Regions from separate parts of the Homo sapiens genome. Here all the other regions are linked to region 1. Evidence: fine-mapped expression QTL. A gene starts in region 1. Each other region holds a variant in brackets. All regions are shown on one strand. Distances are between the middles of the regions. Region 1 holds the start of NCAPG2 (non-SMC condensin II complex subunit G2). Region 2 overlaps ESYT2 (extended synaptotagmin 2). Region 3 overlaps ESYT2 (extended synaptotagmin 2). Region 4 overlaps ESYT2 (extended synaptotagmin 2). Region 5 has its middle 34 kb from the start of MIR5707. Region 6 overlaps VIPR2 (vasoactive intestinal peptide receptor 2).

The links. PIP is the estimated chance that this variant, and not a neighbour inherited with it, causes the effect.
Region 2: its variant is fine-mapped to the expression of NCAPG2 in whole blood (TOPMed, PIP 0.98).
Region 3: its variant is fine-mapped to the expression of NCAPG2 in whole blood (INTERVAL, PIP 0.98).
Region 4: its variant is fine-mapped to the expression of NCAPG2 in whole blood (GTEx, PIP 0.97). The same link has a PIP of 0.9 or more in aorta.
Region 5: its variant is fine-mapped to the expression of NCAPG2 in stomach (GTEx, PIP above 0.99).
Region 6: its variant is fine-mapped to the expression of NCAPG2 in sigmoid colon (GTEx, PIP 0.98).

The regions. Positions count from the first base shown.
Region 1 is chr7:158,702,686-158,707,819 of GRCh38, forward strand. NCAPG2 (non-SMC condensin II complex subunit G2) reads right to left here and starts at 2,119. Exons shown (of 28, transcript NM_017760.7): 1 at 2,039-2,119. RefSeq lists an enhancer at 880-1,458 and silencers at 2,036-2,135, 2,286-2,375, 2,496-2,775.
Region 2 is chr7:158,744,118-158,749,251 of GRCh38, forward strand. ESYT2 (extended synaptotagmin 2) reads right to left here. Exons shown (of 23, transcript NM_001367773.1): 16 at 4,077-4,163. Among named protein-coding and RNA genes, the nearest start is that of NCAPG2, 42 kb to the left of the region's middle. The variant G/A (reference allele first, on the strand shown) is at 3,230.
Region 3 is chr7:158,734,292-158,739,353 of GRCh38, forward strand. ESYT2 (extended synaptotagmin 2) reads right to left here. Exons shown (of 23, transcript NM_001367773.1): 19 at 4,732-4,830; 20 at 2,757-2,888; 21 at 1,212-1,317; 22 at 131-180. Among named protein-coding and RNA genes, the nearest start is that of NCAPG2, 32 kb to the left of the region's middle. RefSeq lists an enhancer at 1-755. The variant G/A (reference allele first, on the strand shown) is at 2,643.
Region 4 is chr7:158,815,361-158,820,494 of GRCh38, forward strand. The region is part of intron 1 of ESYT2 (extended synaptotagmin 2); the gene reads right to left. Among named protein-coding and RNA genes, the nearest start is that of ESYT2, 12 kb to the right of the region's middle. RefSeq lists a silencer at 1-12 and an enhancer at 3,056-3,215. The variant G/A (reference allele first, on the strand shown) is at 2,091.
Region 5 is chr7:158,623,413-158,628,546 of GRCh38, forward strand. It overlaps the pseudogene THAP5P1. Among named protein-coding and RNA genes, the nearest start is that of MIR5707, 34 kb to the left of the region's middle. The variant C/T (reference allele first, on the strand shown) is at 2,528.
Region 6 is chr7:159,133,591-159,138,724 of GRCh38, forward strand. The region is part of intron 2 of VIPR2 (vasoactive intestinal peptide receptor 2); the gene reads right to left. Among named protein-coding and RNA genes, the nearest start is that of VIPR2, 8.7 kb to the right of the region's middle. The variant T/C (reference allele first, on the strand shown) is at 2,592.

The sequences.
Region 1 (5,134 bases):
CCTGCACCATTATAAATAGAGCAATATGGAAAATTATTGCCAATAATTATGGGGACAGAGAGTCATCTTAAACATATAATACTAGATTTTAATGTCCAAATTGAACAAAGCAAAAATAACCTCAGTTTAATGACTCCCGAAATAAGTTAACAGTGAAGTCTGGTCATCTCATTCCTCAACTCAAATGGCTGAACTATGAACTACGGTCATGGACCACATAACATTTCAGTCAACAACAGACCACATGTATGACCGTGGTCCCATAAGATTATAATGCCATATTTTTACTGTGCTTTTTCTATGCTTAGATATGTTTAGCGATGCAAATACTTGCCATTGTATTACAGTTGCCTACAGTATTCAGTACAGTAACATTCTAGGAGCAGTAGGCTACACCATACAGCCTATGTGTGTAGGCTACACCTCTAGGTGTAGGCAAGTCCACTCTGTGATGTTCATGCAATGATGAAATTGCCTAACGACAACGTGTCTCCCTCTTTAAATCAAGCATGACTGGCACATTTTTCACTGACAAAGAAAATGGGGAGGGAAGGGAGAGTGGCCAGTAACAAGCATAATGAATAGTGGCTAGGACAAATTCATGATTTTAGAAAAATAATCCAATAAGGTGCAGCAAACACATGGAATCATACATCTTCGCCCGGCAAGTCTGTGAACACTCTCCACTTTTTCATAGTTCTGGTCACTTTTCTTGTTTGCTCTATTTCCAAGTGTACCTCTTTGGCATGTTAGTCCAACTTACAGTAATACACTTCCTCTAGACTACCAAACTTATTCCTATATTTCCCATTTTCCCTCTTATATTAGTGACTGTAATTTTTTAATGGTTAATTTTTCAATCTATCTCCCAAAGTGGCAATATTCCATGTTTCTTGTACCATATGTGCATAAGACCTCAGCCCTGCAGCCAGAATGCTACTTTCAAGGTAAGGAGTCATCTCACCATCCAGTTATCAGTCCGAAGAGCAGGTTACTCTTCGCACAGGAGGTCTGGTACTAAATCAAGATGAGCATTAAAAAGAAGAAATCCCTGTTACCTTCTCACCACCTGTGACTTCCCACTCCGTCCCCAAACTCCTTCCTCATGGACACAACAAGAGGCACCAAACCAGCAACAAGAGTTCAGGAGACTGATGTCTCTGAGGACAATGCCCACGTCCACAGCTGGGGAGATACTCTCTGAGGGCAGTGCCTACACCCAGGGCTCAGGGGGACTCTCTCTAAGGGCAGTACCGACACCCAGGACTGAGGGGACTCTCTCTGAGGGCAGTTCCCATGCCCAGGACAGAGGGGGTCGCTCTCTGAGGGCAGTGCCCATGCCCAGGACTGAGGGGACGCTCTCTGAGGGCAGTGCCCATGCTCAGGACTGAGGGGGTCGCTCTCTGAGGGTAGTGCCCATGCCCAGGACTGAGGGGACGCTCTCTGAGGGCAGTGCCCATGCCCAGGACTGAGGGGGTCGCTCTCTGAGGGCAGTGCCCATGCTCAGGACTGAGGGGGTCGCTCTCTGAGGGTAGTGCCCATGCCCAGGACTGAGGGGACGCTCTCTGAGGGCAGTGCCCATGCTCAGGACTGAGGGGGTCGCTCTCTGAGGGTAGTGCCCATGCCCAGGACTGAGGGGACACTCTCTGAGGGCAGTTCCCATGCCCAGGACAGAGGAGGTCGCTCTCTGAGGGCAGTGCCCATGCCCAGGACTGAGGGGACACTCTCTGAGGACGGTGCCCATGCTCAGGGCTGGGGGGTCGCTCTCTGAGGGCAGTGCCCGCGCCCGGGGCTGGGATTTTCCTCCGACACGGACAAGAAGGACGGGCGTCGCTGAGCTGGGTAGGGGGGATGGCCCGGGGTCGCCAGTTCCGTCCAGTTCCGTCAGAGGCAGCACTGCCCGCACGCAGGTCGGCCGCCTCCTTAGGGGAGGGGAGGCTGGGACCCCGACCAGCCGAGGAGGGGCTTCCCGCCCGATCCCTGCTACTTCCCAGCCCCTGCTCTGAACCCAATCCCGGCTCGGCACCGCAGCTCTTACCTGGGCTCGGGGACCCGCCGTTTCCCGCGCTCGGACCAGATTCAAACGCACCCGCCGGCGCCCCAGACGGGCCCCGCCCTCCCGGTCGTCATCAGGCGCCGCTCTCGCGAGAGCTGGGGCGCCGCGAGCCTCGGGCCTCGCCCACACGCCCGGCCCGCCCCGCCTCCAGATCATGCCCCGCCCACATGCCCGCCAGTCTTCTTCCTGTCTATGCCCCGCCTCTTAGGGCGCGGCCTCGAGCAGCTAAGCCCAGTGCCCTACCGGGCACTACGGAACGCGCACGCGGGGCGCCACAGCTGGGGAACCCATGCCCGGTCCGCGCGCCGACGTCCACTGCGCGCTCGTGCGCGTCCTGGGGCCTCCGCGGAGGGAGTGCGCGGTCCAGGAGAGGGCGGGGCGCTGCGAGCGGGCGGTGTTGTGGGAAGGAGGAAGGAGAGGAAGAGAGAGAGGGGGAGAGAAAGGAAAGGCTTGGGGCGGGGAGAGGCCACAGGGCCGTGTCTGGATCCCCGGGAGGACCCCACCCCGACCTGGCCGGCCCCCGTGACCGCCCTCCCTGCCGAGGGGGCACCTGTCCGGGTGGTCCGCAGCCTGCACACGGTAGGTGCACCCTGGGCAGGTGCTTCCCCCGCAGGAGCCCCTCCGGCCAGGTGCGGCCCCTAACAGGTGCTTCTCCTGCAGTTGCTCCTCCAGCAGGTGAGGCCCCCGGCAGGTCAGCTGCCCATAGGGTGGAGAGGGAGAGGCCTTAGCGGGGACCCTCGGAGGCACCCGTGTGAAGGAGGAGTAGCAATGTCATTCAATTCTTTGGACTTAAATGCCAAAATCACATACTGATGTATCAATCTCTTTTAATTTGTGTCAGCGAATAACTTGATTGGGCGTTCCCAATTTTTGTTGAAAGCAAATTCTTAGAAAACGGTGCTCTTTACCACCGAGCTCTGCATCCCTTCGTGAGGACTTGGCCTTCCCTGGAGCTATATTCTTTCATGCTTGAGATGTCTAGAGTGGTATCTGTTTTCCTGGCTTAACTCAAGCCAGAGGTCTTGGCGAGATTGAAGTCGTTGCACTGTGGGAGCACAGCACCAACCAATAGGAACATCATGGGAGCCACAAGTGCACTTGTAAATTTCTAGTGACCACATTAGAAAAATGAAGATAAATAGGTGACATTAATTTTTAAATATGTTTTATTTAGCCTAGTATATCAAAAATATTTATGTTACTTGTTGGAATATCGTTTCAACAAGCAATATAAAATTATAGCAGGGAGAAGACTGGTTTACTAGGAAGCTTGCAACAGTGAAGCAAGGCAGGCTGCAGAGGGGAGGGAGAAGACCCACTCAGAGGATGCTGAGTCTGGGACCCTTGTCAACAGGTGGCCGATATCTAACATTGCCTATTTCATCCTGGGGCTCCAGCCACCTCTGACCTCCTCCTCCCTCCATACACAGATCCTTCCCTGCCATTTCTTGAATTTTGGTGCCCTCATCTTCTCACTGCTTTCTTCTTAGCAATTTCCTTCATATCCAAGGTGCAAACTGCCACCTTCAAGCAGTGACCTCTGCATCTGGATTTGCAAGACACGGTTATTTCTGAACTCCAGAATTTTCAACAGCTCACTGCCTACTCCCACGCTGGTGCTGACATGCATCCAAAACAGATATCGACTTCCCCTCCCACCCCTGAATCCTGCCCCTTTCCTTATGCTGGTCCCTCCTCCAATCAGCCATCTGTTCCTGGGGTTTCCACTTCCTGAGTAGGAATAATGTAACAAGTTACGCATGTGAGCTCTGAAGCTGTACCACCTGGGCTAACCTGGTTCTGTGCTCACTAGCTGGTGACCTTTGACAAGCCATGGACGACTGAGCCTCAGTTTCCTCATCTATCAAATGGGACCTACTTAAGTACTGAGCCTCCTCTAGGGGGTTGTTATGAGGCCTAAATGTCTGTATAATGCAGAGCTCAGCCTCCTCTAGGGGGTTGTTATGAGGCCTAAATGTCTATGTAGTGCAGTGCTCAGAGGCACGTGGAAGCAGGGCAGCAGGAGCGCCCAGTGCACCCCCAATGCACCTGCCCATGCAGCCACTAATGTCATAGGATCCTTTGGGTATCGCTTCACCAGCTAGAAACCTCCGTGGCCAGCGGTGCCTCTGCTAGAGTTTTGCTCGAGCCCACTCAGCCCAGCAGGTTGCACTCGGCTTGCACTACCAACCCAGATCCCACGCCTGCCAAGGGTGAGCCAGGTGCAGAGCGGCAAGGGGTATGTGAGCAAGCGAGCATGGGGTCCAACCACTGCGCACACCCAGCCATGCAGCTGCTGTGGTGGAGCAGGCAGCTCTAGGTGCCTGCACAGCTGCCGGCTCCATGCAAGGCTGTGGCTGGACCAGAGGTACCACAAGTGGCTTCCACTGCAGGCATCAGCATCTGGACAAGGGGAACATGGTGGCACCCGAAAGCTCACAGATGCCAGGAGCCACAGAGCCCCAAAGGGGGGTTACACTGTGTCACAGCCCTGGCTCGGGGAGCCCCGAGGTCTGGGCTCCCAGAAGGGCCACAGCTCTTCTGTCCTTCTCATCACCCACAGCGTGGCTAGCAGGGGGTCGTGTTTCCGGGGCGGCATGTTTCACCTCATTTGTGTTACAGGTCTTTTGGTCCTGCCGCCCCACACCGGTCCACGGCTCCTTGGCTGTCCCGGCCCCACCGCTGCTTCCCACTGCATGGGGTGGCCACTGGGCGCCAGCAGAGGGTGGGAGGGCTATAGCATTATAGCTCTGGCTTGGGGAATCCCAAGGCCTGGGCCTCTACAAGGGTCACCACTCTTCACTCCCTCAGTCTGGGAGCGTGTCACCACCCGCAGCTCAGCGACCCGGCCAGGAACCCGTTACAGCCACTTTGGCTCCCACCTGCAACTTGGCAAGCTGGCCAGGAAAGTATTACAGCTCGTTTTGCTCTCACCATTCAGCAGGTTCCAAGTTCTTGTCCCATGTCCAGGAAGAATGAGGTTTGGCAGACATCTGGAGGGTGAGCAAGGCAGAGAACAGCTGACCAAATAGCTCTCAGTGGAGAGGAGACTCGAAGTGGGTAGCTCCTATCCACAGG
Region 2 (5,134 bases), 41 kb after region 1:
GAAAGATATTTTTAAAAACCCAAACATATTTCAGCCATATTCTCTTAAGTAGTGTTTCCATAATGATTAACATGGTATGAAATCTCCTAACAAAGACACAAAACACTGTTAACAAGCAAAAGATCTGCTATTTCGTCATTATAGATTACAATGAGCACAGAAAGAAATGATGTAATAATGACAAATGAGAAAAGCAGTAATGACAATAATGACCAATCGGTTCGGAGAACCCTGGGTTAATAGGCAATAGTCTACCTGTCTTTTAACCCCTGGGAAAATGGTGGCAATACACACTCATAACGATGTATACAGTTTCCATTCATGACATTTATGGAGACAATACATTTCTAAGTACCTTTTAAGCCTTCTCCATTCAAAATCCACATTAAAGAAAATTTACAGCAAGGCATTTAAAAATTTTTTAAAAAACAGAGGTGGATCTCACTATGTTGCCCAGGCTGTTCTCAAACTCTTGGCCTCAAGTGATCCTCTCATCTCAGCCTCCCAAAGTACTGAGATTACAGGTGTGAGCCACCATGCCCAGCCTCTTTTTCCTGTATAATAACCTTCTGCATTATCTCTGCAACAGGAATTATTCCTGTTAGATGGCTGTAATATAAAATAATTTAATCAAATAGAGTAAGAACTCTGAAGGTTTCTCAGGCTATACAAAAATGGTCAGAGAAATTAACACATAACTACTCAGGAAAACCTAAAAGGTTGATTGCATATTTCTTTTCAAACTAAACTATAATCACAAAAGCAGTTTTAAATGAAATAACTATGACAATGTTTGTGGAACTTTAAAAATTATTTTTAAAATCCAAGGTCCAGTAAGCATAGATTATTTTGAGAATACAGAAGTGCACTTTATGAAGGAAAAACCAGCTAGACAAAACACAAATCCTTTTGTATAAAACAGAATGTAAAAAAGTATCAGATTGGGGCAAAAGTAATTGCAGTTTCAATGGCAAAAACTCCAATTACTTTTGCACCAACCTAATAAAACAACCAACACAGAATAATGAGACAGGGTCAGGCAAGCGGCATGACCAGGTCTCCTAGGCCCGGCTGTTCACACTCACCTATCTAATGAGACAGGGTCAGGCAAGCGGCATGACCAGGTCTCCTAGGCCCGGCTGTTCACACTCACCTATCTAATGAGACAGGGTCGGGCAAGCGGCATGACCAGGTCTCCTAGGCCTGGCTGTTCACACACACCTATCAAGAGAGGTTCAAGATACAAGTAGCAAAAACAGAGGCTGAGGAAAAAAACATAAATTCAGAGATTTAAACGCCATGCTCTTCATACCTGATATAAGTAGTCTGAGAACTAGTAAGGCCCCAGAGGGCCTGAGCAATGGCAATGCCACCAACCACCCTGACCTACTGACATTCATGAGACACTCGCCAACACCAGAAAGGCACACAGCCTACAGGTGCACGTGGAGTGTGTCCCAGGACAGGCAGTGCTCTGGGCCATAAAGCCGGTCTCAAACATAAAAGGGCTCATGTCATACAAAGTATGTACTCTGACCACTATGGAATGAAATTGGAATCAATAATAGAAAGATTAAAAAAAAATCCCCAAACATATGGAAACTAAATAACAGACCAAAATAACCCATACACAGGTCAAAGGAAAAAACTGAAAGGGAAATTAAGGAAATAATAATAATCAAAAGGAGACATCAACGACAAGTCAAAATTTGTGAGATGTAGCTACAGAATTTAAAGTGAAATTTATTGGAGTAAATGCCTACATTATAAAAACAGAAATGTCTCAAGCTTCTTCTTTAAGAAACTAGAAAAAGAGAAGCAAAGACCCAAAGTAAGTGGGACTGAAATAATAATGATCATAGTAGAAATCAATGAAATAGTAAAAGAAAAGCAATAATGACAATTAAACAAAAAATTGGTTAAGAAAATAAAATCAATAAACATCTTGTAAGACTTATTAGGAAGAAGAAGAGAGAAGACAGGCCAGGCATGATGGCTCACGTCTGTAATCCCAGCACTTTGAGAGGCCAAGGTGGATAGATGGCTTGAGCTCAGGAGTTCGAGACCAGCCTGGGCAATGTGGTGAAACCGCATCTTTACATACATAAATAGACACACACACACACACACACACACACGCCCCTCCAACACACAAAAATTAGCTGGGTATGGTGGCATGCACATGTAGTCCCAGCCACTTGGGAGGCTGAGGCACACATACACACATACCCAAAACACAAAAATTAGCTGGGTGTGGTGGTGTGCACCTCTAGTCCCAGCCACTTGGGAGGCTGAGGCGGGAGGATTGCTTGAGCCTAAGAGGTCAAGGCTGCAGTGAGCCATGACTGCACCACTGCACTCCAGCCTGAGTGACAAAGTGAGACCCTGCCTCAAGAAAAAAAAAAAAAAAGATTAATAAAGCACCAATAATAAAGACAGTGTGATACTGGCATAAAGACAGACATATAGAACAATGGAACAGAAGGAATTCCAGAAACAGACCTATACATATGGGCAACTGAATTTCTGGAAAGTTGCTAAGCTAATAAATTAGGGCAAATAATAATCTTTTCAACAAAGACTGAACAACTGCACAAATGCTGAACAACTACACAGCCATATTAAGAAAAAGAGGCTGGGCACCGTGGCTCACAACTGCAATCCCAGCACTTGGGGAAGCAGAAGTGGGAACATCGCTGCTCGAGCCCAGGAGTCTGCGACCAGTCTGGGCAACACTGTGAGACCCTACAAAAAATAAAATAATTCTCTACAAAAAATAAAAAAATTAGCCAGGCATGGTGGTGTCTGCCTGTAGTCCCAGCTACTCCGGAGGCTGAGGCAAGAGAATCACTTGAACCCAGGAGTTGGAGGCTGCAGTGATCTGTGATTACACCACTGCACTCCAGCCTGGGTAACAGAGTGAAACTCTGTTCTCAAAAACAAAGAGGCGGGGTGCGTTGGCTCACGCCTGTAATCCCAGCACGTTGGGAGGCCACAGTGGGCGGATCAGCTGAGGTCAGGAGTTCAAGGCCAAGCCTGGCCAACATGGTGAAACCCCGTCTCCACTAAAAATACAAGAAATCAGCCAGGTGTGGTGGCGCGCACCTGTAATCCCAGCTCTCAGGAGGCTGAGGCAAGAGAATCACTTGAACCCAGGAGGTGGAGGCTGCAGTGACTGAGATCGCACCACTGCACTCCAGCCTCCATGACAGAGTGAGACTTCATCTCA[G/A]AAAGAATGAAACATTAAAAAAAAAACCCCAAACGTCTTACAAACTCAGTATTAAGAAGACAAATAACCAAATAAAAAAGACAGGCAAAAAAACTGAATAGACATTTCACCATAGAAGATACAAAGACCGTAAAAAAGCATAAAAAGGTGCTCAACGTCATTAGTAATGACGCTGAAACCACCCGGTAATACTCCTATCTACCCACTAACACCACAGCACTGGCGAGATGTGGGGCCCGCTCGACTCACATGCACTTCGGTGGGAATGTGACACGGCACAATCTCTTTGGAAAACAATTTGGCAGTTTATTAAGAAGCTAAACATGAACCTGGCAACCTGCTCCTGGGCATTTTACCCAACAGAATGAAGGCATATGTACACACAGTCTTGTATGTGATATTCACAGCAGATTTATATGTAATAGGTCTAAACCGGAAAGAACCCAATCTTTTATCAATGTCTTACTCACAGGTAAATGGATGAGCAAATTGTGGTATATCCATAACTACTACTCAACAATAAAAAAAGACAAACTGTGGGTATCTGCAACAACACAGGTAAACCTCAGAATAATTATCACCAGAGAATATAGACAACTAGAGGACATACCGCATAATTCTATTTGTATAAAATCCTGGAAAATGTGAACAGTAATCTACAGTGACCAAAGGCAGGTCTGTGTTTGCCTGGGGCTAGGGGAGGCCCGGGTTACAGAGAGATCTACCAATTGTCCTGATTCTGGCGATGGATCCCCAGGTGTATACACGGGTCACAACTCAGCAAATTGTATACTTTAAAAAGTCAATTATTTGTCAATAAATTGGTTAAAAAATGCAAATAAAATACCTCAACTTCAAGGTCCTGGCGCTTGGGATTGTGAATGAAGAAAGTGAAGTTTTCCTCCCACACAGGTTCATTGGTTTTGTATCGAATCTAGAAGAAATATCCAAATTATTAGCTCTGATATTTTCTGTGGAAAAGGGCTACTCATTTTATGTGTTTAGAAGCTTAGAATGAAAAATAAAAAGAAAATAAATAAAACAAAAAACTAGAAGCTTAGGTTGACCTTAATTAAATTCCAAGACATGTATTTGCAGGTATGCACTATTATGTATTGATGGTGGATGTGTTGAAAAGATAACGAGACGGTCTAAAGCCTTTAGAGTTTGTCATGAGGCCCCAACCTGTGCGCCCACAGATAAAGGCTTCGTGTGCGTGGCCTGGCCTCGGTTCTGTAATGACTTTTGCACCAACGTAATAGCTCCTCCGAACTGAGGAGGGTGAGCACTTGGGCACGTCTCTTAAACTGTTCACAATTCAGTGAGTGATGACCTGTAACTTCGGGCAATTTCTTTCTTTTTTTTTTTATTTTTTATTTTTTTTTGGTAGGGGGGACAGAGTCTTGCTCTGTCGCCAGGCTGGAGTGCAGTGGCGCAATCTCAGCTCACTGCAACCTCCACCTTCCGGGTTCAAGCAATTCCCCTGCTGCAGCCTCCCAAGTAGCTGGGATTACAGGCACGTGCCACCATGCCCAGCTAATTTTTTTTCTCCTGTAAGGAAAGTAGAACATATTACAGCAATATGTAATAGCCATACCCTCTTTTCAAGTCGTAATTCTAACTGTATTGGTTGAATTTTAAGCACTGTTGGTTTTCTTTTAAACTATTTATAGAGTGCTCAAGACAAACTTAGGAATTGTTCCCATGTGTCTACTCATAAAATCAAGCAAAAACATATTCATCTATTACTTTCTAATGTTATTTTTGTTTTGTTTTTTGAGACAGAGTCTTGCTCTGTCACCCAGGCTGAAGTGCAGTAGTGCAATCTCGGCTCACTGCAACCTCTGCCTCCCGGGTTCAAGCGATTCTCCTGCCTCAGCCTCCCGAGTAGCTGGGATTACAGGC
Region 3 (5,062 bases), 32 kb after region 1:
GACCAAGTAGGAAAAGCCTATCAGATACGTGTCGGGTTCCACCACTGTCTGTGGGGGACACTACCCACTGGGCGGGGAAAGCGTTTTTAGCTACACACTGGGGTTCTCTGTCTGCAGCAGGGACACTCACCACTGGGTCCAGCCTTTGGCAAGTTCTTCAGATGCCAGAGCAACCAATACCTGTGGGTTGTTAAAAAAGCAGTTAAAGTAGGCTGGGCTGGGGGCACTGGCTCCCGTCTGTAATCCCAGCACTTTGGGAGGCCAAGATGGGAGGATCTCTTAAGCCCAAGAGTTTGAGACCAGCCTGGGCAAGATAGTGAAACCTTGTCTCTATTAAAAGTAAAACAAATTTATCTGGGCGTGCTGACACGCACCTTGGTCCCAGCAACTCGGGAGGCTGAGACAGCAATTGCTGGAGCCCAGGCATTTGAAGCTGCAGTGAGCCATGATCGCGCCACTGGACTTCAGCCTGTGCTTCTACAGACCCTGTCTCTAAATAAATAAACAAATACATAAAGTAGGCTAAGACAATGTCTTTTAGATCTTTTACCACTTCTTCTCATCTCTCTAATCTTCTGTCTTCATCTAGGAATATGGACTCTCCCTTTTCTGAAGGCTCTTACTTTTTCAATCTTTTCTACCCCCCTGAGCACCTGTAAGCTACATCGCTGAATACATCTAAGAAATCCTTCATGCAACCAGCAGTCTTAAAATTCAGCTATGACGGAATATCAGCGGAGATGACTCACAGAAGGGTTGGCCCATGTGCCCTCCATGGCAGCACAGCTGACGAAATGATGCCCGTGACTCAAATCTCTTCCTCCCCAACTGAACCTACTCTCATTCCTAAATAACATACACTCACATGCCAAAGTGAAATGTGAAATACGGACAAAGAGTAGAAGAAATTCACATAAATAAAGCCAAAGAATTTTAGAAAAAGAGCAGAGCCATCAGTTGAGGAGATGGAATTGTAAGAGATTATTTTCCTTCAATGTGATACTTGAACAAAAATGTGAAGACTTAACTTAAAATATCTTCAGAAAGCACAGATGTTTTGACTGTCTTTATAGCCCATGATTTATAAACAAGCATCGACCTCGTAAGTTCGCCCCTTCCACTTACACAGACATGGTCTAAACACTGCACTGCAGGTAAATGTTCAATTTTACAAACTGCAGGAACTGGTTGAGGATTCGTTTGGCACTTACTTTGCCAAGGAGCCCTTTGTCTTTGGACAGGAAGCCGCCACTGTTCTTCACGGCAACGTCGAGCGTTCTCCTCTGCACTTCTGGTAACGAAACACTGAAATCAAAGCTGAAATAGGAAACGAGAGCCTTACTTTATCCATCATTCTGCTGTATTTTCTTATAACTAAAAATGGCATTTCTGCTCATGAGATCATTCCAAATGTCATGTTTGTTTTTTATTATAAAACTGAGTTCTTCTACCTAATGTTTTAATCTGGCATTTCAGGAAGACTCAAAAACCAACATTTTTTTCATTTCCCACACATAAAAGAAGGCTCTGGCATCCCATAGATGTCTGGGTCCCAAGGTCCCTGGCTCACTCACGGGTGGGTGAGGAGCGTCTCTCAACATGTCTGACTCTTCCAGGGGATTAAAATGTGGGATAATGTTGACAAAACAGCAATTCCAGAGCAGCCCACTCACTCAGGCTTTCCACTCAGTCTGGTTTAGTCTTCAGGCCCTATTCCCACCATCTCCAATAAAAAAAAGTATGTGCTTGCAGCTTCGCAGGAGGGAGAAGGCCTCCAAAGCACTCCCGATGCTCAGCCAGACGCTGCACTAAAGTGCCTGCAGGGCGTCTCTCCTCCGGGCTGCGGGTGCCTGCCCCAGGCCACCGTGCTGGGGGGCAAGTGGAGTCTCCAGACGCTTAAATGCCTCGGATGGGTAGGAGCACCCTGCACAACCTCATCGGGCTGATGCACGCCTGCCAGTTTCTGATGGGTGTTTTACATAAAGCTACTTGTATGAAAGTACAATGAATGAGGAGGATGTTTAAAGATGAAACGTAAACTGAATTAGCAGATAGCGACACCATACAACTGTATTATTATCATTTCCCAAAACAAGGGTGGGTTTTGAAGCACTAGGGGACAATCACCTAAGATACCAAAATGGTACAGATTAGCAGCTCTTTAAAAGTGGGGGCCAATGACCCCTGGGGGTGTCTCTGAGACCCTCCTAGGAGGTCACCAAATCACCCTGACCACAGAAGCAGGCTCCAGCCCCTCTTGAGCCAGACCACTAAAGAGATGAGCAAAAATGCTGAACAATAATACCATTCTTTTCATTATGTTTTTTATTTTTGGAAATACAGTTGTTTTTCCAATATGTCATACGGTAAGATGTTTGGGGCTTACTGTTATTTAAAAATAAAATTAAAAATATATGTATCCTTAAATTCTCAGTTTTAATTGATAACATAGTTAAGTGTCAACAGATATAACCCCCAAAAATGAGTTCTTCAGGGCCATCAGTAACCTGATCTTTATTTAATCACTAGTCTACATGTCCACAGGGTTGTAACTTGAATTTACTGTATTTAGAGCTTCTACATGAAGGTCAAAATGCTTATTTGTTTTGAGAAGTATGTTTGCTAAAAGTTGGTTTCTGATT[G/A]AACTTCTCAACAGCTGATTTATGTGCTTTGGCCACTCAAAGGCACCATTTAGGGCCTTCTTAATCCGTCACTTCAACCGGGCAGTCTATCCTCAGCTGGATAAAATACCGTACCTTTGATCAAACACTGGATTTAATGTTTTCTTTGACACGTGTGTTTTCCTCCTTCCTGACCGCCTCTTGTCTGGTAATAAATACATGCGGACATAGGGGTCAGAGCCGTCTTCAGAGAAGGCAATGAGGTTTCTTACAACACAAACCAGATAAGACGAGGTATTAGGACCGAGAAAAAGAGAATGAGCAGCACATTCAGATATGCTTTATCAAGCTTTGATTTCATGTTTATCTACAAACCGAGAAGCAACAAGGAACAGAATGCGTGAGGCGCTTTTGCCTCCCCCGACGGCTGCCTGGTGGCATCTCCCAAACTCCTTTCTTAGTGGCTTTCTCAGCAGCGACTTCGGCCTTCATTTCTCAAGCCCAGAGTTTGGAGGACGTTCCAAGTCCTTGGTCTCTGCTTGTAACAGAGTGACGGTTGTCTTTCCATAATGCTTCTGCCATTTTCTCTCTCACAGCCAAGAAAGCCAGGCCCCCACCCCACAGTGCCTACCCCTCCAGAAGGGGGCTGCTCCTTTGCAGCAAACGCGGTCAGGTGCCCAGCTGCACAGGCCCCCACATTCTTCGCTTGCTGACTGACCACAAAGTCTAGGAGGGATTGTTTTGCTAGACTCCTCTACAACAGTATCCCCCACGATCATTATCTAAGTGGCAAGAATATATGAACTTCTCAAGAGTGATGTACTGAACTCTACATTTTTATCATCTTTCTAAATGGTGCTAATTTTATTTTCCTATGTTTCCAACAGCTATTTATAAGCACCAAATTTTTATATCATATTTTAAACCACTAATAGGACAGAGAAAATTGCATAAAAGGAAAATAGTTCGTAAGCCCACAGTATCATTGTTAACAAATGCAATTAATGCAACAGTCACCTGACTTTATACTTATTAATATAACAAACAAGTTAAAATAAATTCTTCCTGATTAGGCCAGTCATGGTGGCTCAAGTCTATAATCCCAGTGCTTTGGGAGGCCAGGAATTAGAGACCAGCGTCTCCATAAAAAAATTAAAAATTAGCCAGGCCTGGTGGCTTCCACCTATAGTCCCAGCTACTCAGGAGGCCTGGCCAACATGGTGAAACCCCGTGTCTACTAAAAATACAAGTTAGTCGGACGAGGTAGTGCACGCCTGTAATCCCACCTACTCGGGTGGCTGAGGCAGGAGAATTGCTTGAACCCAAGAAGCGGAAGTTGCAGTAAGATGAGATTGTGCCACTGCACTCCAGCCTGGGGGACAAAGTAAAACTCTGTCTCCAAAAAAAAAAAAAAATACACACACACACACAGACACACACACACACACACACACACACACACACACTCTTCCTGCTCTAGGCTACACATTTGTACAGTATGCTACTGTGCTGAATACTGTAGGCAATTGTGACATATTTGTGTATTTTTTTTTCTTTTTGAGACAAAGTTTCGCTCTTGTTGCCCAGGCTGGAGTGCAATGGCACGATCTTGGCTCACAGCAACCTCTGCCTCCTGGGTTCAAGTGATTCTCCTGCATCAGCCTCCCTAGTAGCTGGGATTACAGGCATGCACCACCACACGTGGCTAGTTTGTATTTTTAGTAGAGACAGGGTTTCTCCATTTTGGTCAGGCTGGTCTCGAACTCCAGACCTCAGGTGATCTGCCCACCTCAGCCTCCCAAAGTGCTGGGATTACAGGCGTGAGCCACCATGCCAAGCCATATTTGTGTATTTAAACACATAAAAGGTACAGTAAAAATACAGTATGATCTTAGGGGACCGTTGTACTTCGGTGACCAAAACGTTGTCATGTGACATACGCAGTGGTGACACCCTTTACGAGCACCGTCTCTAGAGGTTTAATTGCTTTGTCCTTTCTAAATGAAACATAAATGGATGTTTGGAAATCCTAAAGGCGGTGTCTACATCATCCTATCCAGCATCCACACTCAGCAGCACAGCAGCGGGCGCGTGGGACCCCAGCCCCCACCTGCAGGCATGCACGACCACGATAAGCTTGTTTCTCTGCGAGCTGTGCCGGATGGTCAGCTGGATCTGCCCCAGTGGAGACTGTCCCAGGGTCGTCCCGCTGTGGGAAAAGAGCAGAAAGTCACCAGCTTGCCTGAGACTGGAGAACGTTGTGATTCATTGGTCCACTGTACACGATAAAATAATTTCTATTCATTTAGACAAAAAGAAGTCAAATTACCCATGAACTTAAACATAATTTGAAACTTCTGGGTACAAGTCAAACAGATGAATATTTTACTTGAGGGTTCAATATAAATTAATTATTCAAAACTGACATTATTTCTTTTGTT
Region 4 (5,134 bases), 110 kb after region 1:
CCTATTGTTCCAGCCATCATTTCTACACCCTGGGGTGGTTGTTCACATTCCTGGCTCACTCATCTATCTTCCTTCCTCCCCAAAGCTATTCCCCTGACATTCAGGCACACTCCTTCCCCCTCATGCTTAGATATGTGTCCCCAGTCCCTCTGGATATCCCTGCCAAATGTATCTTGCTAAACCCCCCTTTTAAATTGGGACACATCCCTCTAGTGGATATCTGGATGCTGCCCTGTGTCTAGGGATCAAGCCCAACTCTTCCACTTGTGTAACTTATGGTGCTGCTTCCTGTGGTCATCTCAGTTCCCACAGTTCCTAACCCTTCTTCCCACTGCACAGCTCCTCCTCATCCCACCTCTGAAAGACCACATCCAACCTCAGACACCAGGACTACAGCCAAAAATGGAAAAAAACCTTAGTATTGAATCCAAGATGTGATCAATTATAAGCTGCACCATCACTTTATGTGCCACTAAGAGCACAGTCCATTAACAGTGATACACCCTTGTAAAATAAATCTGATTTCTGAGATGTTACGGCACGGGGAAAGTGCTGGAACTAAGCCTTCCTGGCTCCTGAATACTCCAAGAAACAGGGTAGTGTGGGAAGCTGAGTAACAGCCCTCAAAAGATGGTCACGTCCTAATCCCTGGAATTTGTGAGTGTCGCTTTATATGGCAAAAAGAACGCTGCAGATGTGGTAAAATGGAGGATCTTCGCTGGTGGAGGACTATCCATAAGGCCCTAAATGCCATCTCCAGTATCCTTAAAAACGGAGGAAGTCCAGCCTGGGCAACACAGTGAGACTCCATCTCTACAAAAAATGTTTAAAATTAGCTAATTAGCTGGGTGTGGTGGTACAGGCCTGTAGTCCCAGATACTCGAGAGGCTGAAGTGGAAGGGTTGCTTGAGTCCAGGAGGTCGAGACTGCAGTGAGCTATGATCACACAACCACACTCCAGCCTAGGTGCAAACAGCTCACTGCAGCCTCAATCCTTGTCTAACGAAAAGAAAGAAAACAGGGAGGAACAGAGATTTGACAAAACAGAAAGCAGAATGGCCCCATGAGGATGAAAGCAGCTGCCAGCTCTGAAGGGAGAAGGGCCTGCAGCCATGGAATGTGGCTGAGAAGCAAGAAAAGCAGGAAAAGCTTCTCCCCAGGAGCCTCCAGAGTGCACACCCTGCCCACCCCTCAGTTTTAGCCCAGAGGAACTGATTTCCAACTGCTGGCCTCCAGAACCCTTAAAAGATAAGAGTGTTGTCTGAAGCCACCAAGTTGATGGCACTTTGTCACAGGCGCCCTAATGCACCAACCATGTCATCCTTTCCCTCCTGCTCCAGTACTCACGTTGACATCTACGGAGCATTTCTTTTAAAACTTTGCTTCACACACAGCACCATTTGTGATTAAGTAAAATCAATTCTTTCTACTAGTTACTGGATAAATTCCAAGATCTTTATATGTGTGAAAAAATAAGTAGGAAGAGTATTGTTACTTTGTATTGGATTACATTTGGAGTTTCGGTTTCAAAAGTCTAGCACTCAGATATTAATGTAGACGGTGTTAACAAATTTTAGGTACGCACTTACTAGCCATTTAAAGATTTGTAGCACAAATGAAATAAATTAATGATCTCAGTAGGCAATTCACTTCTAATTGTGTATAAATATCAACACCAGCTTTATATAACATTTTACAAATTGGGTACAAAGTATAAACCAAAAAGAAAATTCTAAGCTCCCAACTATCTGAACAGCTCCTCCTCTCTGCCAGAGGCATTCCAAAGTTAACCTGTAAAACTACTTCAGGCCACGATGAGGGGGTGGGGCATCGGACACACCTCATTACCATGACACAGACTTAAGACTGACAGAACTGACAGAAGAACTGACAGACTCTTTAAGTCTGACAGGAAACATTAACCATCTATTCTCTCTGAAGCCTGCTACCTGGAGGCTTCATCTGTACAATAAAACCTTGGTCTCCACAAGGTAATCCAGACATTCCTTTATATTGATTCCAGGTCTCTAGACAGTAACTTAACCAATTGCCAATCAGAAAAATCTTTGAGTCCAGCTATGATCTGGAGC[G/A]CTCCCCACACCAACCTGCTTCCAGGTGTCCCACCTTGCTGAACGAATGTACCCGCTTCCAGCTGTCCCACCTTTCTGAACCAATGTACCTGCTTCCAGGTGTCCCACCTTTCTGAACCAATGTACCCACTTCCAGGTGTCCAACCTTTCTGAACCAATGTACAGCTTACATGTATTGATTGGTGTCTTATGTATCCCTAAAACTTACAGGTCAACCCCCTTGGGCAAATGTCTTGAGACTATGTCACCAGCATCCTTTAAACCTGGCAAAATAAAATACTAAATTAATTGAGACTTGTCTCAGATACTTTTGGTTTACAGATTAAACTAAATGCTTTAACAAATATATAACAAAGTTTCATAAGAAAATGGAAGGTGAAAGTATCATTCAGATTAATAATTTTAGCAATTTGATACTGGTTCTCAAAATGTGAGCAGCATAATCAAAAACTAGCATATAATAGGTACTCCAGTATAATATTTATGGCATGAAGTTAGATAATGTTCTCCCAAATCACTGGATTTATTTTCTACAGATCTACCTTACTCTGGGAAACTTAAAACATATCAATCCCTCAGACAGGAAACAACTCCACATATAATACACGTTAAAATTAAACTATTACAACTGACCCCGAAATAGGATGTGCACTTTCAAATCCCCACTTTTTAGTCACTAACCAGCACTTATTCACAAAAGGAAGTTAATGAATATTAGAATAATTAAATGTTATATGTACAAAATGTAAAATTAACTATCATTATCTATGGCATCAGGATGACTCCTGGAAGTGGAGTCAAGAAAGATTAGCCATGTCCTTGGAACAATATTTGTTTTAAGGAAGATACAGAGCAAATCAAGGCAAGGAAGAGGAGTGCCACTGTAGGCTCCTTGGATATTATTTTAGGGATATACAGAGAGGAAGAGAAAGTGAAATTTTACGGCACACATACTTGCAAGTGTTAATAACAACAAAGCATTATGGTAGATAAATTCTTAGCAACAGCGTAAACAAACCACGGTGGAACAGAAACAAAGAAAAACCCCAGGGCTCATCTGTTCCATTTCAGCAGAGGTGGGGGAGGGAGGTGGCAAAGGCCACACCAGGACTTGCCTGCAAGCGGAGCACTGGTCACAGCTGGGCATCTCTGGGCCTGTGACTCAGACGGCTGACCCGAGGACATGCCTCCCTGCCCGCCCATGTCCAGTGTGTTCACTGGCCTCTCCGCATTCCAGCCTCACAACCACAGCACAGAGTCAGGCTCAACCCCCATCAAACCAAAGAGGAAACAAGGTTCTAAGAGTTGGACCTGACTCACCCAAGGGCAGGGAGTTAGGAAGGGGTGGGTCTCAGGGCGCAACCCACACCCACCAGAGCCAGAGCCTGAGCTGTGGGCTCTGCGAGACGGTGGGAGCCTCAAAGCTAACCAGAGGCCGGTGGCCACACCTCAGCACACCCCACAGAAGGGCAGCCCCACTCGCACGGGCCCTGGCCACATGACTGGTCATGTCCAGACAAGGACACACCAATTCAACAAATCATCATGGGAACCTCAAAGTAGCCATTACTCAATTGTGCTACACGAAACCATGGCAGTTAAAAATACTTGTAACTGTTAGCAAACTTTAATATACCAACACAGCACAGGGGAAGAAAAGCAATCTGAAGTTGTGACTCATTATGGAGGGAATGCTTTCTTCCAAAGGTTATTCAGACAAAAAGAGATAGGGATAAATCCTCTGTCTTTTAACAACATACCATGCAAAAACAAACACTGCCTTCCAAGGCCAGACTTCTGCTTACAAAATTATCATGTCTAATGAGTTCAAAAATAATTCATATATCCTAGACACAGATCTAATAAATAGCTCAAGTAAATACGTTTTCATAACTTAAAAAGAGCAGAAAATTAAATATCTCAAATTCTATTTTTAACTCTTCTCATTATATCATATCTCACAATCTAGTTTTTCAAATGTCTATCAGACATCATTTAAATAAAGTCTGGTAGCTTCATAAGACAGATGATACTGCAATAGTCAAAGTCATATTTCTGAAGAATAACATACTATCCATAATATAGCATTTAAGAAAGGAGGATACTATACACACCCATATATCCAAACATATCATTAAAACATTAACAAAATCCACGGAAATGTTGCCAATGTAATGTTATCACTAGTTAGTAGAATTGCAGGTAACGTTTTTCTTCTTTATTCTCCTCCAAAGCTTATTCTTCAATGAGCATACTTTCTTCTTTAAATCAGAAAAAAATGTTTTTGAAACCTGTCTAGCCATAACATAAGAAATGAAGAAAAATACAACTACATGTTCATTAAATATAGAAAGATAAAGGGGGACTTCACCGTGTAACTGAACAAATTAAAAAAAAGAAACTCAGTTTCAATGACAATTTTACAAGTAATAAAGAAAGCATAATGAAAACCATCATATTAGTATTTCCACATCTGCTGTTGGTGTGGTTATCACTAATTCCAGCACGCAATCACCAAGCACAAAACTGAAGCTGTTATCCGAAAGGACACTGCTGCTGCAATACACAAGTGCACGTGGGATGTGCTTCTTACTTTGTACTGATACTTTCATCTAGACACTGCCGTAATCCATTAAACCCCATTCAATTTATACTTTACTAGCAACTACCATTATGGATGGTTTGGTATTATGGATGATCTTTTAAATATATTTTTTCTTGGATTTTAAAAAAGTGAACATGTATTATTTTTACTAAAAGAATGGGGGAGAGTCTAGAGAGATATTAACAAATGGATAAAACATTTCAATTACAAGGAATGAGTTCAAGAGATCTATTGTACAACACTGTAACTATAGTTAGCAACAATATAATATATTCTTGAAAAAGTCACTAAGAGTAGATTTTCTAGTGTTCCACCACAAAAAATGGTAAGCCCGTGACATAATGCATTTGTTAATTAGCTTGATTTAGCACATTCTACAATGTATACATATTTCAAAACATGTTGAACACAATAAAAATAATACTTTTATCAGATAAAA
Region 5 (5,134 bases), 79 kb before region 1:
TTCATCCCCGGCAGTTCTTACAACAAATCGCCGCGCAATAGCGGGGCATCACTCGGGTGAGGCCCTGGGAGACCGGGGCCGGCGACGGGTGCAGGGTGGCCCTCCTCACTGAGGCTCACCACAGGTCCAGAAGATTTTTCAAATTTGATAACTAAAACCCAACACACTCAACAATTCTAATGAAACCTAAGCAGAAGAAACATGAGGAGAACCACACCCAAATACATCATAATCAAATTGCTAAAAACCAGTGATAGGCCGAGTGTGTTAGCTCACACCTATAATCCCAGCACTTTGGGAGACCGAGGCAGGTGGATCACTTGAGGTCAGGAGTTCAAGACCAGCCTGGACAACATGGTGAAACCCCGACTCTACTAAAAATACAAAAATTAGCTGGGCTTGGTGGTGCATGCCTGTAATCCCAGCTACTCAGGAGGATGAGGCAGGAGAATCACTTGAACCCGGGAGGCAGAGGTTGCAGTGAGCCAAGATCACGCCACTGCACTCCAGCCTGGGATGACAGAGCAAAACTCCGTCTCAAAACAAAACAAACAAACAAAAAAGTGATAAAGAGATCATGAAGGCAGACAGAGACACGAAGGTGGGACTGGCAGTAGGATGCTCATCAGTAACCAAATAAGGCACAGTAAAACATGCTTAAACTCCTGGGAGAAAAATATCAACGCAGGATTCTCTTTCTAGCAAAAATACCTCAGAAACCAACCTAGGCAAGATGGCAAACCCGTCTTTTTTTTTTTTTTTTGAGACAAAGTTTCGCTCTTGTCACTCAGGCTGGAGTGCAACGGAGCGATCTTGGCTCACTGCAACCTCCGCCTCCTGGGTTCAAGTGATTCTCCTGCCTCAGCCTCCCGGGTAGCTGGGATTACAGGCACCCGCCACCACACCTGGCTAATTTTTGTATTTTAGTAAAGACGAGGTTTCAACATGTTGACCAGGCTGTTCTTGAACTCCTGACCTCAGGTAATCCACCTGCCTTGGCCTCCTGAAGAGCTGGGATTACAGGCGTGAGCCACCACGCCCGGCCCAAATCCCTGTCTTTACAAAAAAAAAAAAAAAAAAAAAAGCCAGATGTGGTGGTACATGCCAGTAGCTCTAGCTGCTTGGGAGGCTGAGGCAGGAGGACTACTTGAGCCCAGGAGGTCAAGGTTGCAGTGAGCCATGATTGAGCCTGGGTGACAGAGCAAGACACTGTCTTTAAAATTTTTTAAACCTTCAAAAATGAAGGCAAAATACTCTTCCAGATAATCAAAAGCCGAGAAAACTCATAACTAGCAGATATATGCTAAAGAGATATTAAAGAAAGCTCTTTAAAAGAAAGAAAATGACACCATATGGAAATCTGAAACTGCACAAAGGAAAGAACATTGCCAGAAATAGTGAATACGTGGATAAACTTAAAAGACAATTTTCTCTCATGTTTAAATCTTTTAAAAAGTTAATTAACAGTTTAAAACAAAAATAATGACAATGAATTTTGGGAATAACATATGTAGAAGTAAAATGTATGACAATGATAGCACAGCGAACAGAAGGTGGAGGTAAGCTGCTAAGTTTGTGTGCAACTCATGAAGGGATACAGTATTTTTTGAAGGTAGATATGTTAGTTAATAGATGTGGGCCAGGCGCGGTGGATCATGCTGGTAACCCCAGCACCTTGGGAGGCCGAGGCAGGCAGATCATGAGGTCAGGAGTTCGAGACCAGCCTGGCCAAAATAGTGAAACCCCATCTCTACTAAAAATACAAAAAAATTAGCCAGGCATGGTGGCAGGCAGCTGTAATCCCAGCTACTCGAGAGGTTGAGGCAAGAGAATCGCTTGAACCCAGAAGGCGGAGGTTGCAGTGAGCCAAGATCACCCACTGCAATCCAGCCCAGACGACAGTGTGAGACTCCATCTCAAAAAAAAAAAAAAATGCATAAAAAGGATTTGACAAAATTTTAACACCTACTCACGGAAAAAAATTCTCAGAAAACTAGGAATAGAAAGGCACTTCCTCATCCTGATAAAATGCATCTATAAACAACCTACAGTTTATTGAGCTGTGGAAGACTGAATGCTGTGCTGTGGAGACCAGAACAAGGCGAGAGTGCCTGCTCACACCACTTCCAGGCTACATTTTACTGGAGGTTCTCACCGGCACAAAAAGGAAAAGCAATAAAAGCATCCAGACTGGAAAGGAAGATGTAAATGGCATTTATTTTTAGATAACCTGATCGTCTGAGTAGAAAATATGACAGAGCCTATAAATAAACTACCACAAGTCATCAATGAGCTTAGAAAAGTAGAATACAAAGTCAACATACAAAAAGAAACTGCCTTCCTCTATTCCAGTATAAACAATTAGAAGTTGAAAATTTAAAAATACTACCATTTACAACAGCTCTATAAAACACAAAATACGTAGGGATAAATTTAATAAAACATATGGAAGACCTATATCATGAAAATGACAAAATATTGGGAGAAATTAAATGTCTGAAAAACTAGACAATGGTCATGGATCAGA[C/T]GACTCAACACTGTTGAGTGTCAATTCTCCCTCTGCCCGAAGAGCTTAGCAGCCTAGCAGCCTAGCCTCAAACTGTGTTTCAAACTGTTTTTTCTTTTCCTTTTCCTCTTCCCCTTCCCAGTCTCAAGATAAAACTTTGAGACAAACTGCATATGTGTTACCTTTCATCTCGAAATACAGCCTTGGAATGTGCTGCGAACCTCCACTCCCTTTCATTTTTATTTTTGGAAACAGTCTCGCTCTGTCGCCCAGGCTGGAGTACAGTGGTGCAATCTCCGCTCACTGCAACCACCACCCCCTGGGTTCCAGTGATTCTCCTGCCTCAGACTCCCAAGTAGCTGGGATTACAGGCGTGTGCCACCACGCCTGGCTAATTTTTTGTATTTTTAGTAGAGATGGGGTTTCACCATGTTGGCCAGGCTGGTCTGGAACTCCTGACCTCAGGCAATCCACCCACCTCAGCCTCCCGAAGTGCTGGGATTACAGTCGTGAGCCACCGAACCCGGGCCCTCCACTCTTCTTTCTTTTCCCACTGTATGCTCCCATGCTTTATGCACATGTATTTACCCAGATACTAGTTAAGCACACACCATGCTCTCTTATCTGGCCATTTATTTGCTTAGAAGCTTCAGGGGTCGGGTCCTAAAAGGGACTAGGCAACTCCGGAATTCTCTTTCCAACAAAAGATTATTTCAAGGCCAGAACCCTCTCCTGGCTGAAGAGTGACTACAAGATTGACTGTGATTAATTTATAACCTGGTAGGATGCACAATGGTGCCGGCCCCTTCACCAAATGGGACAATAATTCAAGAAGGGCCACTGAAGCAAGTCACGCCACCTGGCACCTCTTAGTCCCCCTTGCCTCTTCCGCATTCCAAACCCTTTCTGTAAAACCCTGCGTTCCCTCCACAAACTGAAGAGTGGAACTGCTCTTCCCCTTGCCTGCACAAATAATAAAGGAATATCACTCTTTCTCATCATAACTTATTATTTTGCCTTCTTTCCATAAGTGGCCGGACTCTTTTTGCGAGTTAATCCCCAGCTTGATCTGTAAATTTAGTGTAATCACAATCAGAATTGTACTGCATGTTTTCGTCTGTAGAAATTGACAAATTGATTCTACAATGTATATGAAAAGGCAAAGGAGCTAGAAAAGCCAAAACCACATCAAAAAACAGAAAGCCAATTGGGGACTTGCAATTCACAATTTTAAGACACAGGTACGGCTCAAATAAAAAGGACCCTGGGAATTGGCGTAAGGATGGCCATAGCTCAGTGCACAGAAAAGACTCCAGAAAGAGCCCACACAGGTATAGCCAACTGCATCTTGACGAAGATGCAAGGTGATTTCATGGAGGAGGAAAGGGTGCAGGAACAACGGGATAATCATATGGGGAAAAACCAAAAACAACAAACTGAACTTGGACTCCACATCCAAGATTAACTTAAAATGGATTACACACCTAATCATAACAGCTCAAACATACACTTACACAGCAGAGCTTCTCAACATCACACCATTGACCACTGGGCTGGAATGACTCTTTGTTGCAAGGGCTGTCCCGTGCCTCCTACCTGAGGCATTTTGTGGCAACCCAGCCCACCAAGACACCTGTGCCACTGACGGAAAGAGGGGCAAACTCATGCCCAGCTGAGCCCTGCTGGTCTAGATGAAGGGCAGGTCCAGAGATGTGTCATGGAGTTCCTTGATAAAAATATTACCTTCTAATGGTGCAGGGACTACTAGATATCCATATGGCATAAAGAAATAAATAAATCCTTACCTCATACCATACATAAACATTAATTCAAAATGGATCACAGACCTAAACACAAGAGCAGAGCTTTTAGGTTTCGATAAGGAGATAATAAAAGCAGCCACAGACACCAATGTAGAAATAACAGCAAGATTCTCGGCCGGGCGCAGTGGCTCACGCCTGTAATCCCAGCACTTTGGGAGGCCGAGACGGGCGGATCACGAGGTCAGGAGATCGAGACCATCCTGGCTAACACGGTGAAACCCCGTCTCTACTAAAAATACAAAAATTAGCCAGGCATGGTGGCGCGCGCCTGTAGTCCCAGCTACACGGGAGGCTGAGGCAGGAGAATGGCGTGAACCCGGGAGGCGGAGCTTGCAGTGAGTCGAGATTGCGCCACTGCACTCCAGCCTGGGTGACAGAGCGAAACTCTGTCTCAAAAAAAAAAAAAAAAAAGATTCTCATCAGTTAACTATGCAAGCCAAAATAAAACATGTTATTTCATACAGGACAACAAATAAACATGGTTTTTTACATGTCTTTTTATATAGAACACAAAAAGCACAAACTACAAGAGTATAATTGATAAACAGGACTTCTTCAAAATTAAAATTTCCTATTTGAAAGACACCATTTTAAAAAATTAAAATAGGGCCAGGTGCGATGGCTCACACCTGTAATCCCAGCACAGAGGTCAGGAGTTTGAGACTAGCCTGGCCAACATGGTGAAACCCCATCTCTACTAAAAATACACACACACACAAAATTAGCCAGGCATGGTGACATGCACCTGTAATCCCAGCTATTCGGGAGGCTGAGACAGGAGGACTGCATGAACCCAGGAGGCAGA
Region 6 (5,134 bases), 430 kb after region 1:
ATCGTTCCTGGCACAGGGCTACAATTTGAGAACAGAGGCCAGGAATCTCTGCTTCTGTCTGTTTGGTTATGTACGTCTATATGTATGTATGTTATTTATATCTCATATTACCCTACCTTCTGATGTTATTATTAGAGATAACATATAAACGAGATCTATTTTATTTGCCTAAAGAAAATTAGGTGCTTGTAAAAATTAAATATTTTGTGAGAAAAAAGGAACTAACCCAATGGTTTTCAAGTTCATCTAACTTGAGTAATCTTTAATAAATAAGAATGTCGATGATGTAGTAGAAATGGACATTCTACCTAGCTGAGCTAGTCAAATAAGCTCATTATTCCTGTTAAAAAATTTGTCAACAAGAAAAATAACCTGAGATGACAGGTAGTTTGATATTATCCGTCTGTTTAAAAACAGTTTCCAAAATATTTTTGAAAACTTGAAACTCTGAAATTATACTAAGTTAAATTAAATGATATTTACTACATATCTAGATCATGCCCAAATAAGATAAACTACTAAAACACTAATTCCTAAAAAGAAGTTTAAGCTCAAGTATTTTTGGCTTATTCTAGAGGAACTGGAGCTACCTAGGTCTGCCAGTAAGTGTGTCCTGTGCTGAGAAAGTACATGCCATTTAATAACTATGATATCATGTACTTCCTAATTCACAGTGCATATCAGTGTCACTAAGGATTAAGAATTTGAATTAACATGTGTAATTAAAATCACTGGAAATAAAGATGAAAGCAAACAACTGTATATGAAAAAAACAGAGAAAGTATGATGTGTTTTTAATAAGGAAAAGTATATGAGGTCTGTGTTTAAGGAAAAAGAGAGTACTTTTAACTTAAAGCAAGATGACTGATTGTTCCAGAATAAAAAAGAAGAAAATGAGTAAGAAAAAAACTGAGTGGGTATACACAGTTGTAGAAAGTCTGACAAAAGAAATTTTATGTGTGGTCAAACTACTAACATTAGAATGATTTTATTTATAAGTTTTTGTTAAAAAAAGCTTCAAGTACTGACACAAAGTGAGTTTGTTTTCTATTAATAGTGCAATATTTTCTTTCTTTTTTTTTTTTGAGACGGAGTCTTGCTCTGTCACCCAGGCTGGAGTACAGTGGGGCCATCTCGGCTCACTGCAAGCTCTGCCTCCTGGGTTCACGCCATTCTCCCGCCTCAGCCTCCTGAGTAGCTGGGACTAGAGGCGCCCGCCACCACGCCCGGCTAATTTTTTGTATATTTAGTAGAGACGGGGTCTCACCGTGTTAGCCAGGATGGTCTTGATCTCCTGACCTCATGATCTGCCTGCCTCAGCCTCCCAAAGTGCTGGGATTACAGGAATGAGTCACCGCGCCTGGCCAATAGGACAATATTTTCTTGAATATTGGTCTTCTCTTAATTACAAAAGTTTTTTTTTTTTTTTTTTTTTTTTTTAACATTTTAAGTAATTGGCCTAGAAAACAATGATTTTGTGTTTTATCAGGATAACTTATTAAGCTTCATGCTGTCTCTAGTCTTTGATTAGTTAAGAAAAGTGAGTCTTTAACATTAAAAAAGGGCCGGCTACAGGGGCTCGCGCCTGTAATCTCAGCACTGTGGGAGGCCAAGGCAGGCGGATCACTTGAGGAGTTCAAGACCAGCCTGGCCAACATAGTGAAACCCTGTCTCTACCAAAAATCCAAAAAATTAGTTGGGCATGGTGGCACATGCCAGTAATCCCAGCTACTCGGGAGGCTGAGGCAGGAGAATTGCTTCAACCCAGGAGGCAAAGGTTGCAGTGAGCCCAGATCGCACCCCTGCACTCCAATCTGGGTGACAGAGTGCGTGAGGCTCCGTTTCAAAAAATAAATAAAATAAAAATAATATTTAAAAAGGAAAGTTCTTTATTACAATCTGGTATCTGTTCCATAAAAACCTGCTGAAAAATGTTAATAAATGGGAGGAGGCCGGGCACAGTGGCTCACGCCTGTAATCCCAGCACTTTGGGAGGCCAAGACGGGTGGATCACCTGAGGTCAGGAGTTCGAGACCAGCCTGGCCAACATGGTGAAACCCCATCTCTACTAAAAATACAAAAATTAGCTGGGCGTGGTGACAGGCGCCTGTAATCCCAGCTACTCAGGAGGCTGAGGCAAGAGAACTGCTTGAACCCAGGAGGCGGAGGTTGCAGTGAGTTGAGATCATGCTATTGCACTCCAGCCTGGGCGACAGAGTGAAACTCCATCTCAGAAAAAATAAATAAATGAGAGGATCAGCCAACGCATCAGCAAATGTCAGCCGGACGGTTTAATTTCCACTCATCCCACGACACGAGGCAACCCTCAAACACACAGGTCCTGGCCATGAAGCCTTCAGGGAATCACAGGACTGGGTGCTGACCCAGAAAACTCTACAAAGCTTTGTGACCAAAGAGGTTCGAGTCCCAAGTCCCCTTCAGGAAGAGCTGCAGTCTGCTCATGTGTCTAAGTTTGCCTCTGTTGCTTATAACAACATACCGGAAACTGGGTAAATTATAAAGGAAAGGCATTTATTTCTCACAGTTATGAGGCTGGATAAATCCAGGGTCGAGTGGCCACAATGGCTTTC[T/C]TGCTGGCGGGGACTTTTCAGGGTTCCCAGGTGGCACAGGCCATCGTGTAGTGAGGGGGCTGAGCGTGTTGGCCCAGGTCTCTCTTCTTCTTATAAAACCTATCCCTTGAAAACCCACTAATCTATTAACGGATTAACCCACTTACGAGGGCAGAGCTTTCATGACCCAATCACCTCTTCAAGGCCCGTCTCTCAATACTACTACATTGAGGATTGTTTTAACCTAAGTATTGAAGGGGATAAATATTCAAACCATAGCAAATCAAAAACATGTGAGAGTCGAAGCCACCAAGAATCTGACAGGTTGCATGAAAGCGCACATTAGTGTCCATCCACAGTGGCCATGTACCCAAGACAACCACTGCTGCCCCGGAAGAAGCTGAGAGGTCACTGGCCACACACTGAGGAGCTGTGTGTGTGGTGAGCTGCATGCTGGCTGTGGGTTTCGTTTCCACTGACCCAGGTCTCTGAGCCTCTCAAGAACCCCCGCGTCAACACAGTCCTTGTGGAAGAACAGGCTGAGCCCAGGAAAAGGAGGAGGCCCCGACAGACAACATGCTGTAAAAACCATGGCTCATAAGTAAAGAATGTGAAATGGGTATATAAATATAAAATCATAAAAAATGAGGCCAGCAGGAATTGTTACTGCTGTGGCCATGTGGAGAAGCAGCCGCCACTCGTCACCAACCCCCACCAGCAGGACAGGAAGCAGCCAGGTTCTGAGGACACCCAGGCATACCTGGGGAGGAGGAGGCAGGTGTGAGAGCCCAAGGATGGAGGAGACAGAGATCAAGGGAGGGGAGTGGAGAAGGCAGAGAGGTATGCACCAGGAGAGGCCATCGACTGGTGGGAGCTTGCTGTGTCTGGGGTCACCAGCACCAGACTGAGCCCTGACCTCAGCAGGAGGGGTGGGGAGGAAGCTGACTCTGACCCCATCAGCAGCAGCTCACCTCAAGGGGCCGGCCGCCCACCCTGAATGGCTTCCTGTGACCCACTGTGGTCACCCAGGCAACAGCTCCGTTCTTCCCAGACAGGAGAAGCCATTAGTGCACTTCTGAGTGGCCCACTCCTTCACCTGCCAGAAACTGACTTCTCAACCATAATTCCCTTTATGATTCTTAAGCATTTTATTCAGGGTAAAAATTAATTCAGTGAGATTTGTTTCCTATAAAAAGTAAATATAAAGACATTACTTTAAAAAAAAATAGAGACAGCTTCTTGCTCTGTTGTCTGTGTTGTCCAGGCTGGAGTGCAGTGGTGCCATCATGGCTCACTGCAGCCTTGAACTGGGCTCAAGCAATCCTCCTGCCTCAGCCTCCTGAGAAGCTGGGACTATAGGTGTGTGTCACCACACCAGGTTAAGTTAAAAAGTTTTTTTGGTGTCTTGCTATGTTAATCAGGCTTGTCTTGAACTCCTGCCTTCAAGTTACCCTCCTGCCTCGATCTCCCAAAGTGCTGGGGTTACAGGCATGAGCCCATTGCACCAGGCATAAAGACATTACTTTAAGACTGTCCCAACCAATAAACAGTTATTAATTATTTAAATATCCAAGACGAGGAAATGACCTTAAAGAGTTTAGAAAATGGAAGAAATCTAGTCAAAAAGATCCAAAAGAAAAAAGTGACCAGGCTGTTTATCTCATCAGTCCAAAAAGTTATTTGGACTAGAACAAGGACCTACTTATATCAGAAAGAAAATGAAAAGGAAAGATATAGGCACCTTTTAAGATACAACTGACGTCTACACCATCAATATTGACATCAGAGGAACCTACTTCTCTGCTCTCTGCCGTGGATGCCAAAACTGCTCGGTTCAGACCTTCTGGAGCATAACACAGTGATTATTCATTTAGTTTCTTAGAACAGGTCTGCCTTGAATATCTGCTGAGGACCACGAACAGCGAGCTCCCACCAGAGCTCCAGCTCCCGCAGCAGAGGGCAGCATCGCAGGGCAGCTGAGCCGAGACCACAGAGCGAGGTGGAATGCTGCAGCCACACAGGGCCTTGGACCCTCCGAGGAGGGTCAGTGCCCACATGACGCTGTGAGCAAGAACCCATTTGTGGACACTGTCTGGTTTCCTCTGACAAAGAGAAACAAGCAAGAAGGGGTTAGGTGTAAAATGGGTTGTGATTAACCATATCCCACATGACACAACCGACACAGGAATGAGAAAGTGGGCTAAAATAGTGTCATTTGGTCATAGGAGATGGTGATTCCCATTTTATATGAGTGGCTTGAAGTTAACCCTCAAATGCTGGTGAAATATTTTATTCCCACCAACAAAACGGTCACTAGAACATTGTTTGTAGTAGCAAAATACTGTCGGCTACCTAAAAGTCCATGGACCTGGGAGAGACTAAAGAAACACATTAGAATACTATAGCAGCTCTTAAAGAGAATATAAGAACAAATGCAAAACAGTTGCCAAATACATTGTTACACTGAAATACAAAACAGAAAAGAAAAGCAAGATGCCGAGCACATGTGTGAAGAGTATGCCAGCTTCCACGTGTCTGGAAGGAAAAGCGGGGTCTACCCACGT